Linked DNA regions of Homo sapiens: regions 1, 3 and 4 are each reported to be linked to region 2. Evidence: microRNA targets listed by miRTarBase, many of them from high-throughput screens and not tested one by one. Region 2 holds a microRNA gene; each other region holds the end of a gene's coding sequence.

Region 1 (4,166 bases), not on the chromosome of region 2:
TTTAGCCTGGCCTGCTGGAGGTTGGCTCTTCCCAAGAAAGTTTTTAGAACTCAGAGGAACTGCATGAAGTAGTAGTGAGAACACTTAGCCCTGCATTGCAGAAGTTAACTGATCCTCTCAGCATCACTGTGAGGTAGGTAAGTAAATCTGAACTTGAAACCTAAAGTGCAAGGCTAAACAAGTTGCTTAAGTCCTTGCAGGAGGTATAGCATCAGAAGGTGATTCATACACTGGGATCCCTGGCCCCCAGGCTTGTGCTCAGAAAGATCCTCTGTTCTGTTGACCGCTTGATAGAAAACTGGAATTTGATTTATTAAATGTTTGACATTTTTAATGAAAAGAAATTGATTCAGAAACTTTGTGAATTTTGCTCACTGTTTTGAGAATCTAAAGACCCTTTTTCTTCTTATTTTAGAAGCTGCTAACCTGTGCCAAACCTCCACGGCTGCTACGACACCTGTGACTCTCACTACTCCATTCAGTATAACATCCTCTGTGTCGTCTGGGACTATGTCAAACCCAGTCACAGTGGCAGCTGCAATGAGCATGAGAAGTCCAGTAAATGTTTCAAGTGCAGTTAACATAACCAGCCCAATGAACATAGGGCATCCTGTAACTATAACCAGTCCATTATCCATGACCTCTCCTTTAACACTCACTACCCCAGTCAACCTCCCCACCCCCGTCACTGCCCCAGTGAATATAGCACACCCTGTCACCATCACATCTCCAATGAATCTACCCACACCTATGACATTAGCCGCCCCTCTCAATATAGCAATGAGACCTGTAGAGAGCATGCCTTTCTTGCCCCAAGCTTTGCCTACATCACCGCCTTGGTAAACAGTATTATAAAATCAAAATATGGGTAAAAGTAAATATTTACCAGCAACTTAACTTTTAGTTGATTAAAGCAAAAAGTAAACCATGAAATTGGGAGATTTTATTACATTAGTTAATAAGAGTGTGGTAGCATTTTTCTCCAATTTGGCTGGGATTATTCAAAGTAGGGTGTGTATGTAACTTATCACTGGACCACTTTAGTTTAATCAGAAATTCCTTTTAGCTGACAACATTGCTTAAACAGGATAGTAGTTGGCAAGATGAAATGCCAGAATTAAAACCAATCATAAGTAGAACCCACTTCAAAATAAAAAAACAGCATTACTATTTCTAATCCCAAGGAATCACTTTATTGTAAACACTAGCAGAACTCTTCTCCCTATACAAGGTGGATGGCTGATTTTAACCTGAAATTTTAAATCCACAGATTGAGAGCTAGTGTAGAATTGTCTGTGTTTATTGTTTTTATGAGTAAATACATGCATTGTCATAATAAAATGCATTTCAGAGAATATGCATTTTACCTTTGGGAATATGTTAATTTCAGGCAGCATTCCCTATGGGAAAGGTGATACCAGCTCTGATATGCAAAGCATATGATAATTTATCATTCTAACTTCAACGTATAATAGGGATTGTGACCTGATATTTGGAGATGTAAATATTGCTCAGCATATTAATCCCGATGGAATATAGCATTGTAGTTGACTTTTTAAAAAAAAAAAAAATTTAAAAAAAATCTACAAATTGTGTTTTGCTAAGAAAAGCCTCAACTGACAGAGGAGAAGTCAAGTGTGTGGACAGGCAAGCTCCTAATAAACAGAGTCCAGTGGGATTCCTATTTAGGAGCCAAGGAGTACTTTGGAACAGTACAAATATATTGCTTTAAATTGGAAGACGCTGGAGGCACTGGGATGTGATATGCCCCTCTCTCTCCCAATCAGAGCCTGTTGATATTACAACAGGGACAGATGTGTTAGTTGCTCACTAGAGTTTATGTCTTATATTAAATTGTATACAGTTTTTATTCTAACCACTAACTAGGTAGTGTATGCCCCTTCAGAACATGCAGAGTGTATCTTTTTTTAAATTTCTCCTTCCGTTTCTTAAGTATTGCGCAGATTTGTTCAACTTTGTAAATATGGACATCACTTTTTTTTTCTTTGAGAAAACACTTGTATCAGCTTTGTGGTGTTTTCAGGGAGACAGCTGTCTGCATTCCCTGTAGAAACCCAGCAATGATTATGCACGTTGAGACATGTGCTTTTTATTTCTTAGCAAGATATTTTATCTCTGTACATAAAGTAGAAACCAAAAGCTAGGGAAACAGATACTCTTTACACCATCATGCCACGCATTGTTTTTAAAGCATTGCGTTAAAAAAAAAATTAACTAAACCAAGATGCTGTGATTTTTTAAGTTGCAATATGTTTTTGGTTTTTTTCATTTTTTAATCATTGCAGTTAAGAGAAATGGAAATTAGTTGTGTTAATCTTGCAGAATGTTTGCAGGACTGACTATCAAACTGGATGATTTCCATTTATACCCTACTGTGTCAGTTCAAGCATCAAAATACCTTGCATCTGAGACAGACTTCCTACATCAGGGACAGGTATCTGTGTGTCATTATACAAAACAGTTCTAGGGGGTTGAACTACATAGTAAAAAAATAAAATAAATAGTACTTAGTGTAAAATAATTTTATAAATGATCTTTTGTACTTTAGGACATTAAATTGTACAACTTTTGTATATATAAAAGCTTAGGAACTTTCTGTTTAGCAGGAAGGCAACACATTCCTACACTTTTAATGTATATGTTTGTTATAATGTCCATGTAAACATGCCCTATGTTTGTGCCTTTTAATTAGTTTGTCTCAATAAACAAAATGTAGAGAAAAATATGTAGCTATGACTTTGTTACAACTGTTCTTATCCACAGTACAAAAATGGTTTGTTTTTAATATGTAGAGCATTATGTGTGGACTACTGGAAGGACTCGTGTAGGGAAAGCCCAAGAATGACCTTGCTGAGGCCTGGATTGGGAGGCACAGTGGCCACATTTGGAGGAAGTTCACATTTCCTGGCATGCAGACCCAAAACTGGGTTCTGGCTCTGCCTGCTGGGATCTGTTATCTCTGGTGGGCTGGCAGTCATAATTCACAATTCAGACAGCCCAGGCTTCCTCCACAGTGGTCCAAGGAGCAGTCCTCAGTGGGGGCAGGTGTGGGCCCTACCCCTAAGCTAGAATGTGGTTGTCAGAACCCTGAAAGTATTAGTTCTAAAAAAAAAAAGATATATACTAGAAGTAATTGTTTTATCAATTCATTGTATAATAAACAGGAGTGAGACTTCATTGTATGACTTCAGTTAAAATACTATTTTGTATGCATTCTTTATTCACTTAAGAAGCTTGTCTGCAATAATAAAGCCACGTCATGTCTTCTTTTGGGAGGGAGAGAGTCGATGGCAGGAGGGGGTTTTGGGTGGGCCACTGAAAAGGGGTACCGAATAGGTTGTGTGATGAAATTCTGTGTCTTGGAACTGGAATTGAGTTTCGATGTTGATGAACTGATTCAACCAGGTGTTGAAGGCACGACAGCCACTGCTCTACGAAAAGGCAGAGTACGTTTTTCCCTTCTGGTTGTAACCTGGTTGAGAGCTTCCCCTTTATCAGATTGGCAGCTAAACAGTTGTATTAGATAATCCTTAAATCTGACATCCAGCCTGTTACGCTCTAGGGCTCGCTGCTTGGCCTGCGTTTGCTTTTTATTGTGTATCCGTTCCCCTCCTACGGTGTGCTCCTGAATGAAGGTTTCTATGTAAGCAGATGATGATTTTACCTGTCAATACCAGCACTGTATTACTAACATGCAAAATACTGCAGATTTATTTTGAAAATTAAAGTTAACTGGTCACAAATGTTATGATGGATTGTTTAATACCTCAGAAGCTTCATCAGTTTGCTCTGATAATAGAGGAATTTTTCAAGTACTTTCTTTTCAGGTGCGCACATCTCAGTATTGGGTTGGAGAGAGAGGGAGGGACCAGTATCAGGCTGGTTGGAGGGTGGAAGGGCACCAGACTGACTGCCCTTGGTAGGTGCACCCTCCCAAGCAGCTCAGGTAAGGCCCAGGAAGCTAGGATGGAGGCAGTGGCCACAGGTTTAGGTCCCTGTCCTACCCAAAAGAGAAGATGGGTTTAAAACATTTCTTCTCATGCTCTAGGACCCAATTTCCTTAGTTGAAAGGGGCTTTAAGCTGGGTCCCTTGCCCATTTGTGTTCAACTAGATTTATGAGATGCCCACTGAGGACCAACAATGT
Region 2 (4,166 bases):
AAACTACGAAACTATACAAACATAAATAAGGTTTAATTACATATGGCAAACTCTACACATTTAAGGTGTTATTTTGGAGCATCAGTGTATCAAGCAAGAAAAGGTTCTAAACTTGAACTGTGATTTCAAGGCAAGGCAAAACAAATATTACATAAGGTATCAGGTACAAAGCAGTGTCATGAAAATGAGCATATCTGAACAAAAGCTGTGACAGAATTAAGGCCAGATAACCTATCATAAATGTATAGAATGAACAGAACAGCCCGGTTTTAGGAAAGGACTTCCCAGGGAGGTTTAGTAAGCCAGCTGGGAGAAAGGAAAAAAAACGTATTTTTAGGGAGGGATAGGGACGCTCCCATTGTGCAAGAAGGAAGTATAGCCGGTTAACAGCTCCATCAAGTTCTACTAGAAGGAGTGCCTATGTAAATGAAATTCTGCTTTTAAAGTGCCTATTATATAAAGGTCTCTAGAAAACTCAAGCCCTGTTCTACAAGCCCTAGCAGCCTGACAATTCACTAAGCATAGGAGAAGGGAAAAAAAAGTAGGAAAAAAGTGTGGAAGCCCCTTTCTTCCTTTGTAATATGAATGTTTGGCTATATTTAAGATAAATACCACATAAATAATTGCTAAACGTGAATTCTGTTTTTCTAAGTTTTAACAAAATATGCAAAGAACAAAGACCACCAATGAAAGTGGATGGGAACATACGTATTCTACACACAGTTCCATTTTGGAAGGTTCTAGGGCCTATTGAAATTGGGTGTTTAAAAAAAAAAGATAACACAGGAAAATTATTGTAGTTTACCTCTGTCTCCTACAAGCTGATGTATTTGGCAGGGTTACTATTTCCCAGGGCAAAGCAGGTCTTTTTTTTCACGTTTTGACTAACGAACTAGAGGCTACTGCAAAGAAAGAAGAAAAAGAACAGTATTAACGCATTTATTTGCACAGCACCCCAATCTTGACCCTCAATTTTTTCAATCGCCCCCACAAATAAAGCCCGGCTGTTTAGACCTGGTGAACCGCCAGGAGCCTGGAGCTCTTTGTATTAAGCAGCTTCTCGGTTAGGGCGCCCTCCCCCGGCGCCATGCAACCAAACGCTGGCGGCGCGCTGTAACCTAAGGCCCACACCCGTCTTTTCTTTTCTAGGGGATGTGGAGACGCTGGTAGCGGGGCCAGGAAGGCTCCGGACGGAGCAGGTTTTCTGGACCACAGACACACTGCCCCGGCGCCCTCCGCAGGCCGCTCCTCCCCAGGCCCATGACAGTGCCCCGCTGGTTTCTGCCGCGCTGCCGGACTGGAGCTCAGACGGCCTTCGCCAGCCCCCCCAACCCACGCAGATCCCTGCTGACCTGGGCAACTCCCCACCCTCGCTGAAGGTTCGAGGACCACCCCGCTTTCCCGAGAGGAGCCGGGCGGCGGGTACTTATCTCCGACCTCCGGCTAGTGGGAAAGGCCGCGCGACCGCCCGTCCTCCAACTACAGGGACCGCACGGTACGCGCCAAGCACAGCCCCAAAATGGACTCGCGGCTCCGGCTAGCTCCGCCCCCTTCCCTCTCCCGCTTCCCCTTCCCCTCCCGTCCCTTCCCCCTCCCCTCCCGTCCCTTCCCCCTCCCCTCCCGTCCCTTCCCCCCTCCCCCTCCCTTTCCCCTCCCCCTCCCCCTCCCTTTCCCCTCCCCCTCCCCCTCCCTTCCCCGTCGCCCGCCTCCGCCTGCACCTCCGGCCCCGCCTCCCCGTCCCGCTTCGCCTGTGTCCCGCCTCCCCGGCCGCGCCTCGCCTTGGCGGAGGGAGCCGGGTGGTGAGACCGCGTTCCTTCCGGCGTCTCCAACCGCCGCCTGCTCCCGCCGTCCACCCGCGCGGGCCGCCTGGGACGGGGAGGGCCGGGCTGCGGGCTTTTCTCCCTTCCAGAGTCCTGCGCCCGCCCAAAGCCCCCCCGCAGAGGCTGGGCAGCGGCTCCGGGAAGTGGACGCCGTTTGCCCAGACGGTGGGCTCGACTGAAGCGGCGCGGTCCCGGGTGGGGCCGCCCGGGAAGAAAGTCTCCCAGTTAAGCTGCCGTGCAATTAAGATGGTTGGGTTTGGATTGTTGTACTTTTTTTTTTGTTCGTTGCATTTTTAGGAACAAAAAAAAAAGCCCAACCCTTCACACCACTTCATCCGCATCTCAAGACCAGAAGCCGACCCCAGCGGCTTGGGGAAATGGAGCCCCGCACCCCACAAGGGGGAGGGTGGGACGGGCACCTCCGCACTGCGCGGCCTGCGGAGTCACCGATTCGCGTTGGGAGCGCGCCAGGAGCGCCAGGGCTCTAGCCGGGGGCTCCGGGCAAGGCGCAACCAGAAAAGGGTTCAGTATCCCCCATCACCCCCACCCCCAACCGTACCCTCTTTCTTTGCGGGCTTTAGGCAGGACACCAGAGACCCAATTCTATTTAAAATTCTCTTTTAAGAAAAGGAACGCCTGTTTTTGCCTTTGGGGGAAAGGATGAACTTTCAAATTGGCTTTAAATTATCCACCACTAACAGTTACTCAGTCGATAACCTGACTATTCTGACGTCCACCTCCCGTTTGAGGACCTTGCCCAATAGCAAACGTACTAAGCACTTAACCAGTGAACGGTGTGAAGGATGCAAACATGGATGATGAAGGAATGGCTCCTCCAGAATTTACGATCTTGGGAGAAGTGAGGCGAGTATAGAATCTCAGAACACGCTGTAGGATTGAGTTCGATCCCAGTTGAGGAAGTTTGGGTTTGGGGAGGAAATAGGTTATTTTGGAGAAACGGTATTCAAAACCTACCATAAATAGCAGTACAGCCCGTTGACTAATAATGCTTAGCCCAACCCCCGTAAAAAGCCCCTGGCCACATCCGTCTCCTGAGATTCCCACTTCTCTGTGTGCATCTCCCTTCCTGCTATAAGAAACCTAACTTTGCCTTCGTAGAACACTTCTTTTAATTTCTGTCATTCAGTCTCATAACACTGTGTAAAAGAAATTATGATCTTCATCCTATATAGATGAGAAAACAGGTGAAGTGACTTTTCCAAGGTACAAAAGCAAGAGGCAGAGCTGAGGCTAAAGGCAGCTTCCAGATATGGGCTCTTTCTACAGCACCATAACTGTCAGTGACAAAACTGCACCCCAGTACCTTACTAAATTTAGTGTTTTTAGGCCAGGCACGGTGGCTCACGCCTGTAATCCCAGCACTTTGGGAGGTCGAGGCGGGCAGATCACCTGAGGTCAGGAGTTCCAGACCGGACTGACCAACATGGTGAAACCTGGTCTCTACTAAAAATACAAAAATTAGCCGGTCATGGTGCCGTATGCCTGTAGTCCCAGCTACTTGAGAGGCTGAGGCAGGAGAATAGCTTGAACCCGGGAGATGGAGGTTGCAGTGAGCCGAGATCCTACCACTGCACTCCAGCCTGGGCAACAGAGCAAGACTCCGTCTCAATAACTAAATTAATTAATTAATTTAGTGTTTCTAAAAAAACAAAGTGATCTGTAGAAACATCTCATTTATTTGTTGTCATTGTGTGTTGATTGATTTTGAGACAGGGTCTATCTCTGTCCCCCAGGCTGGAGTGCAGTAGCATGATCATGGCTCACTACAGCCTCAAGCCCCTGGGCCCAAGTTATCCTCCTCCCTTAGCCTCCCAAGTAGCTGGGACCACAGACATGCGCCACCACGCCTGGCTAATTTTATTTTTTGTAAAGATAGAGTCTCACTATGTTGCCCAGGCTGGTGTCAAACTCCTGGGCTCAAGTGTTCCTCAGGCCTCAGCCTCCCAAAGTGCTGGGATTACAGGCGTGAGCCACCACACCCAGCCATATGGAAACATTTCAGATATCCTAATATTAAAATGATATTTCACAAGACTGGACAGTTATTAACTCATGTGAAAGGAAAATCTTGGGGCCCCAAAATCACTAAGCTAAAGGAAAAAGTCAAGCTTCGGAGAACTGCTTAGGGCAAACCTGCCTCCCATTCTATTCAAAGTCATCCCTCTGCTCACTGAGATAAATGAATATCTGATTGCCTCCTTTGGAAAGGGTAACCAGAAACTCAAAAGAATGCAGTGATTTGCCTCTTATCTCCCTAAAACCTGGAAGCCCGCCCCCTGTTTTGAGTTGTCCCACCTTTGCTTCAAGTCGTCCCACCTTTTCTGG
Region 3 (4,166 bases), not on the chromosome of region 2:
TAAGCTTGTCTGAGATCACTTGAAAGTAAGCATGTCTTGAAGACGTGCTAGATAGCACGAGGGGTTTTGTTTTGTTTTTTTGGAGACAGTTTCGCTCTTATCACCCAGGCTGGAGTCCAGTGGCACAATCTCAGCTCACTGCAACCTCCGCCTTCCGGATTCAAGCAATTCTCATGCCTCATCATCCAGAGTAGCTGGGATTACAGGTACATGCCACCATGCCTGGCTCATTTTTGTATTTTTAGTAGAGACGGAGTTTCACCATGTTGGCCAGGGTGGTCTGGAACTCCTGACCTCAGGTGATCTGCCTGCCTTGGCCTCCCAAAGTGCTGGGATTATAGGCATGAGCCAGTGGGCCTGACCAGCTCAGGTTAATAATAAGCACTTTAATAATTGCTAGATTTGTAAAAAGAAACATTTGGAAGACAACACCTTAAAATCGAGGAAACTGGATTAACTTTTCCTGGGTGAGTTGAGGTGCTGCTGTGCATTTTGCTTTTCTTGGTTCTGTGGTCACCACTTATACTTGCTATTAGTCACCTATATTAATCTGATCAAGTTTACATTGTTTTATCTCCTAACTGTCAAAAACTTTGTTGTTGTTGCCTCCATTGGCAATAATCTAAGCAAAATGCCTTTCCACTGTCCTAAAGTCAATTTTTGTTACTGTACAGAGGAGGAAGAAGGTGGGAAAGGTGAAAAGAGGAAGAGAGAAACAGATGATGAAGGAGAAGATGATTAAGACCCCAGATGACCTGCAGAAACAGAACTGTTCAGTATTGGTTGGACTGCTCATGGATTTTGTAGCTGTTTAAAAAAAAAAAAAAGGTAGCTGTGATACAAACCCCAGGACACCCACCCACCCAAAGAGCCAAAGAATAGTTCCTGTGACATTCCGCCTTCCTTCCATGTAGTCCCTCTTGGTAATCTACCACCAAGCTTGTGGACTTCACCCCAACAAAATTGTAAGCGTTGTTAGGTTTTTGTGTAAGATTCTTGCTGTAGCGTGGATAGCTGTGATTGGTGAGTCAACCGTCTGTGGCTACCAGTTACACTGAGATTGTAACAGCATTTTTACTTTCTGTACAACAAAAAAGCTTTGTAAATAAAATCTTAACATTTTGGGTCTGTTTTTTCATGCTTTGCTTTTTAATTATTATTATTATTTTTTTTACATTAGGACATTTTATGTGACAACTGCCAAAAAAGTATTTTTAAGAATTTAAGCGAAATAAACAGTTACTCTTTGGTAAAGCCTAGTTGTATGCTTACATTTTTAAATTATACTCTCATTGTAAGCTCATGTTAAAACACCAAAGAACTGGTTTATTTGGCATTTTTATATTAGTAGTTGTTGAGGGGAATTGCACAAGTGTGTAGGATCTTTGAGCATTTAGATCAAATCCTCATTGATAACTGGGAGTAAATGAAGCATACTTTAAAAAATAACGTTCAAAATGGAATACTCTGGGGCCCTGAAAACCAGTAAAATGTTAGGTTCAAGTATTATGTGAATTAAGGGAAAGAAGATAGTGTAAAGCAAAAGGCCTTCACCAGAATCCCAAGAGATCTGAATTCTAGTTCTGGCTCTGCCACTGATTTTCTGTGTGACCTTGTGTTGACTCTGGGTCACCACCCAGTCTGGAAAATTGAAGGGGTGTGACCAAATGGCTTCTGAAGTCACTTGTAGCACTGATGTTCTGTGACCCTTGCTGACAGGAAGGTCTGAAGAGAAAAATGGGCTTTCCACTAGTCTGAAGCATGTAGGGTTTGACTGATGGGTGAACACAGTATGGTTTGTTGCCAAGACAGGCGTGAAAAGGGGGAATGACATGTGAAAAGCCTCACCAAGCAGTGGGTAGGCACTGCCTGAGGTCAACTCAGGTTTTCCATAAGATGGAAATTTTCTCTATTCTTACAGATCTTAAAGGGATTTGAGAAAGGAGGATATTCTGTCTGTATTCAGTGATTAACCGTTTAGCGAAAATAGATGTATGACTGCATTATCAATACAGTTTTTTATAGTGGAAGATTTAAGGATTGTTTCAGTAAATTTTAGCTTATAGCTGCTGGAATGAGTGAGGTTTTTGATGCATGTAAATGCAATATGTAAAATTGGAATCTAATTTGAATTTATAACAAGTCACAGTCTCTATGGAGCCCCCAAATACTGTACTTTAAAATCAAAATCTCCCATAGACTTTAAAATGGAGTTTCTTTTTTGCAAAGAAAATCCAAGAAAATTTGATTTCTGATTTTACAGGTATTACACATCATTTTCCCCAACCATAAGGCCATTTTGGCAAACCTTCAATACATTGTAAAATGGTTTCTTCTGTAGCCTAAGTGTGTCCTTAAGGTTTTGCTTATTTGTCAAATATCAAACACAGTAACTTTGAGTGATTATTTTTCCCGGTTTGTTGTTGTTGTTGTTGTTTTTAGTTGTTTTTTAAAGTTTACAGAACTTCCCAGTATCTACCAAGCCTGTAGGATATGCCAGGCTTATTGGCTGGGCAAAAGGGAAGGGAATTGGGTTAAAAAGACAAGCCAGCCCTTGGTGCTCATAGTAACTAGTCAGGAAGAAAAGACATCAACACAAGTAATATTTACTAGGACCTAGGAGCAAGAGGTTTAGGTAAGTTTTAGTGTAGCTCAGAGGCTGGAGAGATGGCACCCAACCTGGAGGGAGGGAAGCTTCTTAGAAAAGAAAGTACTTCAGCTGCACATGCAAGTGTGAATAGCGTCTATAAATAGGAATAGAGAGAGAAGGGAGTATCTTGGTGAGCAGAGGTTAAAGGTAGGAAACTGCTGAGTACAGTTAGATACAAGTAGATTTGACAACACATGAATAGATGATAATACTGGACAAGTCATTTGGGCTCTTGTAGGGGGCCTTGAAGGTCAAAGCCTTTTTGTGCATTATAGTAAAATATTGATGTCACCTGTATGTGGCCAGTGAAGATGCCTTTGACATGGTCCTCAGAGAAGCAAGCTGTTTGGTGATGAGGTCACACAGCAGACTATTTTTGGAGTTGTCTCCCATCTGAAGGAGAACATTGAGAGGGTTTGCTTCCAGCTTCTGCAGTAAGTTTAGTTATAAAATGTCTGAGCTGGGTGGCAGCTATGATGGGCTAGATGACTGGTCCTGACTAGCTGCTCCGAGGTTGGTGGAGGTGTGTTCTACATACACACCTACATGTGTGATACATTGGTATGCCATCTTTTTGAAGCTATTTTCTTTTTTCTTTTTTTTTTTTTTTTGAGATGGGAGTCTTCGCTGTCGCCCAGGCTGACATGTAGTGGCACAATCTTGGCTCACTGCAACCTCCGCCTCCTGGGTTCAAGCAATTCTCCTGTCTCAGCCTCCCGAGTAGCTGGGACTACAGGCGCCCGCCACCACGCCTGGCTAATTTTTGTATTTTTAGTAGAGACGAGGTTTCAACATACTGGTCAGGCTGGTCTTGAACTCTCCTGACCTCAGGTGATCCACCCACCTTGGCCTCCCAAAGTGCCAGAATTACAGGTGTGAGCCACTGTGCCCGGTCCATGGCGCCCTGTTTTCAACCTCTGCTCTTACCTTTAGTTCACTCCTCTTTCAGGAGTCCAGCACCTGAAGAATGATAGTGGCCAGCGTGGAAATGCACAAACCACCTTGTGTAAGATACTGCACCCTACCCGCTCCTGTATCACCACCACCAGGACTCCTGGTACATACTCCAGGACAGATACAGGAGAGTTGAGTCGTCCTGTTCCTGGCATTCCTATCTGGGCTACACTACCTACCCCATCGCCAGAGAAAGGTGAGACAGAAGCACAAAGTGGTTGTACACTATGCTATGACCTTCCAGTTTTCTCCAGCTCTGTTGCATTGTGCTGCCATCAATTTTAATGAGCCTGATGATACCGCCGTGTTGACAGTTTGGAAAGGGAATCAAGTTACTAGTAGACTTAAGCTGCAGCCAGCCAAACAGTTGCTCTGCAGGAAAATCACCAAGATTGCAGTGAGTGTGGAAGTCCTCAGAGCCAATTAGGTCAGCTTAATAATCTCTGATCAAGTGGGTATTTTATAACTTGTCCCAGGGGTGTTGGGAGGGCATATGGAGAAAATACCCTTATTCTATTGCTTTTTGTTGTTGGAGACGGTCTGACTCTGTCACCCAAGCTGG
Region 4 (4,166 bases), not on the chromosome of region 2:
TTTCAGTCCAACACAGGACTCCTCCAATGAGTGACCTTTTTCCCAGAGTTCCCCTGGGATGGCAGCTCGCCTGCTCTCCCTGCCTCGTCCTGCTTCCTCTTTTCCTTTCAAAGGTGCTTACTCCAATAATAAATCCTTTGGTATTCTAACTGTCTACTTCTTGAAGAATCTAAACTGGCAGTAGGATCATGCCCCTCACTGATAGCTCAACCACGTTTTCTATCTTTGGGCCTCCTTGTCTTTACCTAGCACATGAGAAGCATTTATTAGGACTTTTTTTCCCCCATTGCTGAACAAATGACTACAGATTGCTCTACCTCTTGTTCTGTGAATAAAGGCTGGCCGCTGTGGAAGGTAGGTCAGAGCAGGCAACTGAGAGAAACTGTATTACAGTTACCGAGTGGCTTATTAAGGAAAGTGGCGCAACAATCAGGTCCATGTTTCATTCAAATGACCCTCCATTCCCCCAACAACATCCTCACATCTGCCAAAGCAAATTATGCTGCTGTGCTCATTTGATGATGGAATCAGCATCGCATGCAGGCTGAACCCCTACTACGGCAGAACCAAGAAAGCCACTCTTTCCCCTCTCCTCCTAAGATGCCACCACAGAGCAGGGTGCCAGTGGTGGGTGGGGAGAAAGACGGAGACACAGAAACGTCTCCTTTTCACTGTGATTCTCCTAAGGAATATACAGTCACCCCCACAGGAAAAGCAAGAGTTCAATCAAGATTCTTCAGAAATAGTAGGATGGCAGAAAGCAGATCGCATTGAGGTTGTTTCCAACTGACAGACCAAGCAGTAATTTGTTTCTCTCCCCACTGATAGTAAAAATAAAGTGGAAATAATTTAGGGCTGGGGCTTCTGTGATTATCTGGAACTTAAAGTATGAGGGTATGAGAGCCATCAGATCTACCCCTGTGGAGCTTTTTAAGATGCGGTCCATAACAGAAGCGGGCCCCAAGGAGTAGAGTAGCCACATGGAAGGTGCCATGTTTCAGGGATGAGTCTCGATTCTTCTCTCCCTGTATTTCATCCATGCCTGTAAGAAGTTCTCACGTCTCTCCACATGCCACGTCATCTGAACCGCCAGGCGATAGGTTATTCGTATTTTATTCCAAAGTCCATAGGACACGATGTGGACTTGTTTTTCCACGTGCCCTTGTAGATGGTGCCATCCAGTGTCTGTGATGTTCCACCTCCTCTGTTGGGTTGTCACCTCCCCCAGAGACCTTCTGGTCTCACTGCTTTTCTGTTTGTATCCAGCAAAACACTCAACAATTCTGTATAAGAACACCTATCTCATTATTCAAAAAAAATGCATGTATAAACAAAAAGAAATATTTCAAATATTTACTTTACAATTGTTTTATTCAAAGGAAATTAAATACAAATGTATATTTTTCATTAAAAATGGGGATTTAAAAATAGTTTTATAATTAGTGTTATGTTGCTTTATCTTATCTTTGCATAAATTATGTATTATTAAAGGTTTCTGATATCCATATACATTCTAGTCTTTTTTAGGCAGCTATGAGAAGATTTCATATTCAAAAGCCAATGCCACTTTTCTAAAGAAACGATCTTTGTGCCAAATTAGTAGACAATTGCTCCAAATCTCTGGTCTTGACTTCCGGTTGTGTGAAGAGCAGTGTTTTGTTTTTTTCAGAGAAGGGAAAGAGCCTTCATTCTTTAGGTTTGTTTTTGCCTCAAAGACATTTCTATATGGGTATCTAAAGTTTTAGTTTATAAGTCTCATAATGATTTGACCCATGCAGTCCAACTTTTAGATAGTATTTCCATACCCCCCAAAAGCTGGCAGGTGGTAGTCGCACTAGATTCAGACCAAGACTCTCCGCATTGTCATCCTAGGTCCTTCTAATGAAGAAGACAATACTCTAGTTTATTTAACAAATAAAGGAGTCTAAGTACATGGAAGTTAAGGGAGTAAGGGTGGGGGTAATGAGATTATTACATTAAAATAAAGACTTCACACACGTGTGTCCCATGTCTAAAATTGTTGAAAATCTGATTGGAGAAGATTAGAAGTAATTAGCAACTCAATTATTTATAAACAAATATAAAAATGCACAAACCAAATGATGCAAAAAAACCTTTTTAATCTAAAAATTCATTTCCCAGGGCTAATTGATAGCCAGGCCCTACCAATTTTTATCAGTTTATTTGACTAACAAGAGCTATTCAGCATTTTCTTCAAAGTAAGATAATATATAATAGATTTTGATAAATCTTTCTGAATTAGGACATGATACTGTAGGCAGTTCAAGGAAAAAAAAATAGCCATAACTTTTTCTTTGGTGTAACCAAAAGGATATCCAAAAGTTAGCAAATGTTGACATTTCAAGTGACAGGAAATTGCCTAATGGAAGTTTAAACTCTGGTTAAAAAAAAAAAAAAAAAAAAACTGTTGTAAAAGGAAAAGCTCCACCCATAGTTCTGTAGTGCAAGTTTTCAAATTTAATTCTGAAAAATAATTTTATTTCATAGGCAGGAAACAAATTCCAGCAGTGTATCACTTACTCCTTTCCAACCCTTCCCCTCTCTCTATGTCCACACCATCACTTCAGTTGTCAATGACCTCAGCTGCTACTCAAGGAGGAAATTCATTAAAAAATTACCCACACTTCTAAAAATCAGGCTACAATTGTGTGTATGTGGCTGCACAGCAGCAGGCACCAGGTTACAGCATTGCCACTTCTACGTTTGTCATTTTTACAAAAAAGAAGCAAAGTCTACCTCCCCCAGAAAAAAGTACCTGAACCAATTAGTCACTTAGCCCCTTCCCAGCCTCTCCGTGCTCACCAGACCTGCCTCACCTCAGCAGCACACGTGTGCATATATCTGTGTGTTCTGTGCATTAAGAACCAGCAACTCTACTGCCTCTTTCTTGAAGTAACATCTTCTCCTTTCTTACAAAACTCGCTGATTTCTATAAACGTAATTCTCTGAAAGCAATTACCGCCTAGACCAGAGGACTCCGTTACTCTACCAAGCTTAAGTCTGGCTTGCTTTCTTCTATTTCTGTACATGTTGTTTGTGTATATGTGTATTTTTTAAAAATTAAAAAGTGTGGAAAATGCACACATACACACCCAGCATTTAGCAAAAAAAAAAAAAAAAAAAAAAAATCTTCCCCGGGAAGCACTTTCAGAAGTTTAAGCTTCTACTTGTTCTTAAGCCACAGGGCAAGTGCCAGGTGAGTCCTAAATAACCGTTCACTCACACTGCAGGGCTGGCAACCCCGGGGCCCACAGCACAGAAGCAGAGTGGGCTCCCCGGGTGAGCCAGGGAAGGGCGCCTAGCAGGCTTCCTAGAGTGCTGCATTGCTCGTCTCCCCCCGTGTCACCTGGGAGAGTTACGTTCTTGGCCCTAACTCTCCTCGCTCAGAGAACCGCCACACTGTGGGGAGGGCTCTCTGCCCTCTGCACTGGCTGTCCCATCCACAGGGCCGGGGGCCTGGGGCTGCAGGGAGGCGGCAGGCCCCTCCCCACAGAGCAGGCCGCCCTCGTCCATCTCCTCCCTCGCCAGTCCGTCCAGGGAACATCCCTCCGCAGCGCCCAGAGCCCCGCGGGCTATGCTGTCCACAGGCTCCACGGCTTCCCCTTCTCCCTCCGAGATGACGGTCATGGGGCTGCTCTGGATCCGGTTCCGCATGCTGTACCTGCTGCTGGCGGCAGAAGGCGGCGTTCGGCTGCGGCCGTACCTGGGGCCGGAAAAGGACAGACTCCGAGGCATCAAGCCTTCGTTCTTGGCCCACTCCTCCTGCGCCCTTCTGTTCTTGCTTGGGGAGCAGCTTGACGGGCTCTCGGGGGCATCTGGGGAAGGCTCTGACCTCGACCTCTGGAATCTAGGGTCTGTGTTCTTGAGCATCTCTGCTGCAGACATGCGGGCGCTGGTGTCTGAACGACTGCCCTTTTTCAGCAGCAGAGCTTTGAAGTTGTCACTGCTGGTGCTGCTCTTTCGGATGCTTCTCTGAATCGACCCCACTTGCTTTGGAGAGGCCAGGCTTGGGGCAGCGCCGGTGGGTGTCACGGGCGGGGAGGGAGAATGGTTTCGGGAGTGGTCATCATCTGAATCTCTACGGCCGAGGACTTTCCTTTTGGATCTGAGATTTAATAACATTAAGAAAAAGGTTAATTCCCACG

Evidence for each region. The annotated mature microRNA hsa-miR-3613-5p reads UGUUGUACUUUUUUUUUUGUUC and lies in region 2 at 2,083-2,104, shown strand. An mRNA with a match to its seed (bases 2 to 7 or 8) in the 3' UTR can be bound and repressed. Matches are read on the target gene's strand: a 7mer-m8 pairs with bases 2 to 8, a 7mer-A1 pairs with bases 2 to 7 and ends in A, and an 8mer does both.
Region 1: the mRNA of VEZF1 is a reported target of hsa-miR-3613-5p. Seed matches in the 3' UTR shown: 7mer-A1 at 1,801-1,807 and 7mer-m8 at 2,581-2,587.
Region 3: the mRNA of ANP32B is a reported target of hsa-miR-3613-5p. Seed matches in the 3' UTR shown: 8mer at 1,084-1,091.
Region 4: miRTarBase lists NHSL1 as a target of hsa-miR-3613-5p. Seed matches in the 3' UTR shown: 7mer-A1 at 2,427-2,433.

The regions. Positions count from the first base shown.
Region 1 is chr17:57,971,150-57,975,315 of GRCh38, reverse strand. It overlaps VEZF1 (vascular endothelial zinc finger 1), which reads left to right. Exons shown (of 6, transcript NM_007146.3): 6 at 416-3,764. The coding sequence ends at 843. Among named protein-coding and RNA genes, the nearest start is that of VEZF1, 15 kb to the left of the region's middle.
Region 2 is chr13:49,994,403-49,998,568 of GRCh38, reverse strand. MIR3613 (microRNA 3613) reads left to right here and starts at 2,068; the gene lies at 2,068-2,154. TRIM13 (tripartite motif containing 13) reads right to left here and starts at 1,527. Exons shown (of 2, transcript NM_213590.3): 1 at 806-1,527. It overlaps DLEU2 (deleted in lymphocytic leukemia 2), which reads left to right. Exons shown (of 14, transcript NR_152566.1): 11 at 1,150-1,495. RefSeq lists silencers at 1,791-1,920, 2,511-2,560 and an enhancer at 2,101-2,230.
Region 3 is chr9:98,014,690-98,018,855 of GRCh38, forward strand. It overlaps ANP32B (acidic nuclear phosphoprotein 32 family member B), which reads left to right. Exons shown (of 7, transcript NM_006401.3): 7 at 675-1,254. The coding sequence ends at 742. Among named protein-coding and RNA genes, the nearest start is that of ANP32B, 33 kb to the left of the region's middle.
Region 4 is chr6:138,420,691-138,424,856 of GRCh38, forward strand. NHSL1 (NHS like 1) reads right to left here. Exons shown (of 8, transcript NM_001144060.2): 8 at 1,353-4,126. The coding sequence ends at 3,391. It overlaps HEBP2 (heme binding protein 2), which reads left to right. Exons shown (of 4, transcript NM_014320.3): 4 at 1-1,507. Among named protein-coding and RNA genes, the nearest start is that of MIR3145, 13 kb to the right of the region's middle.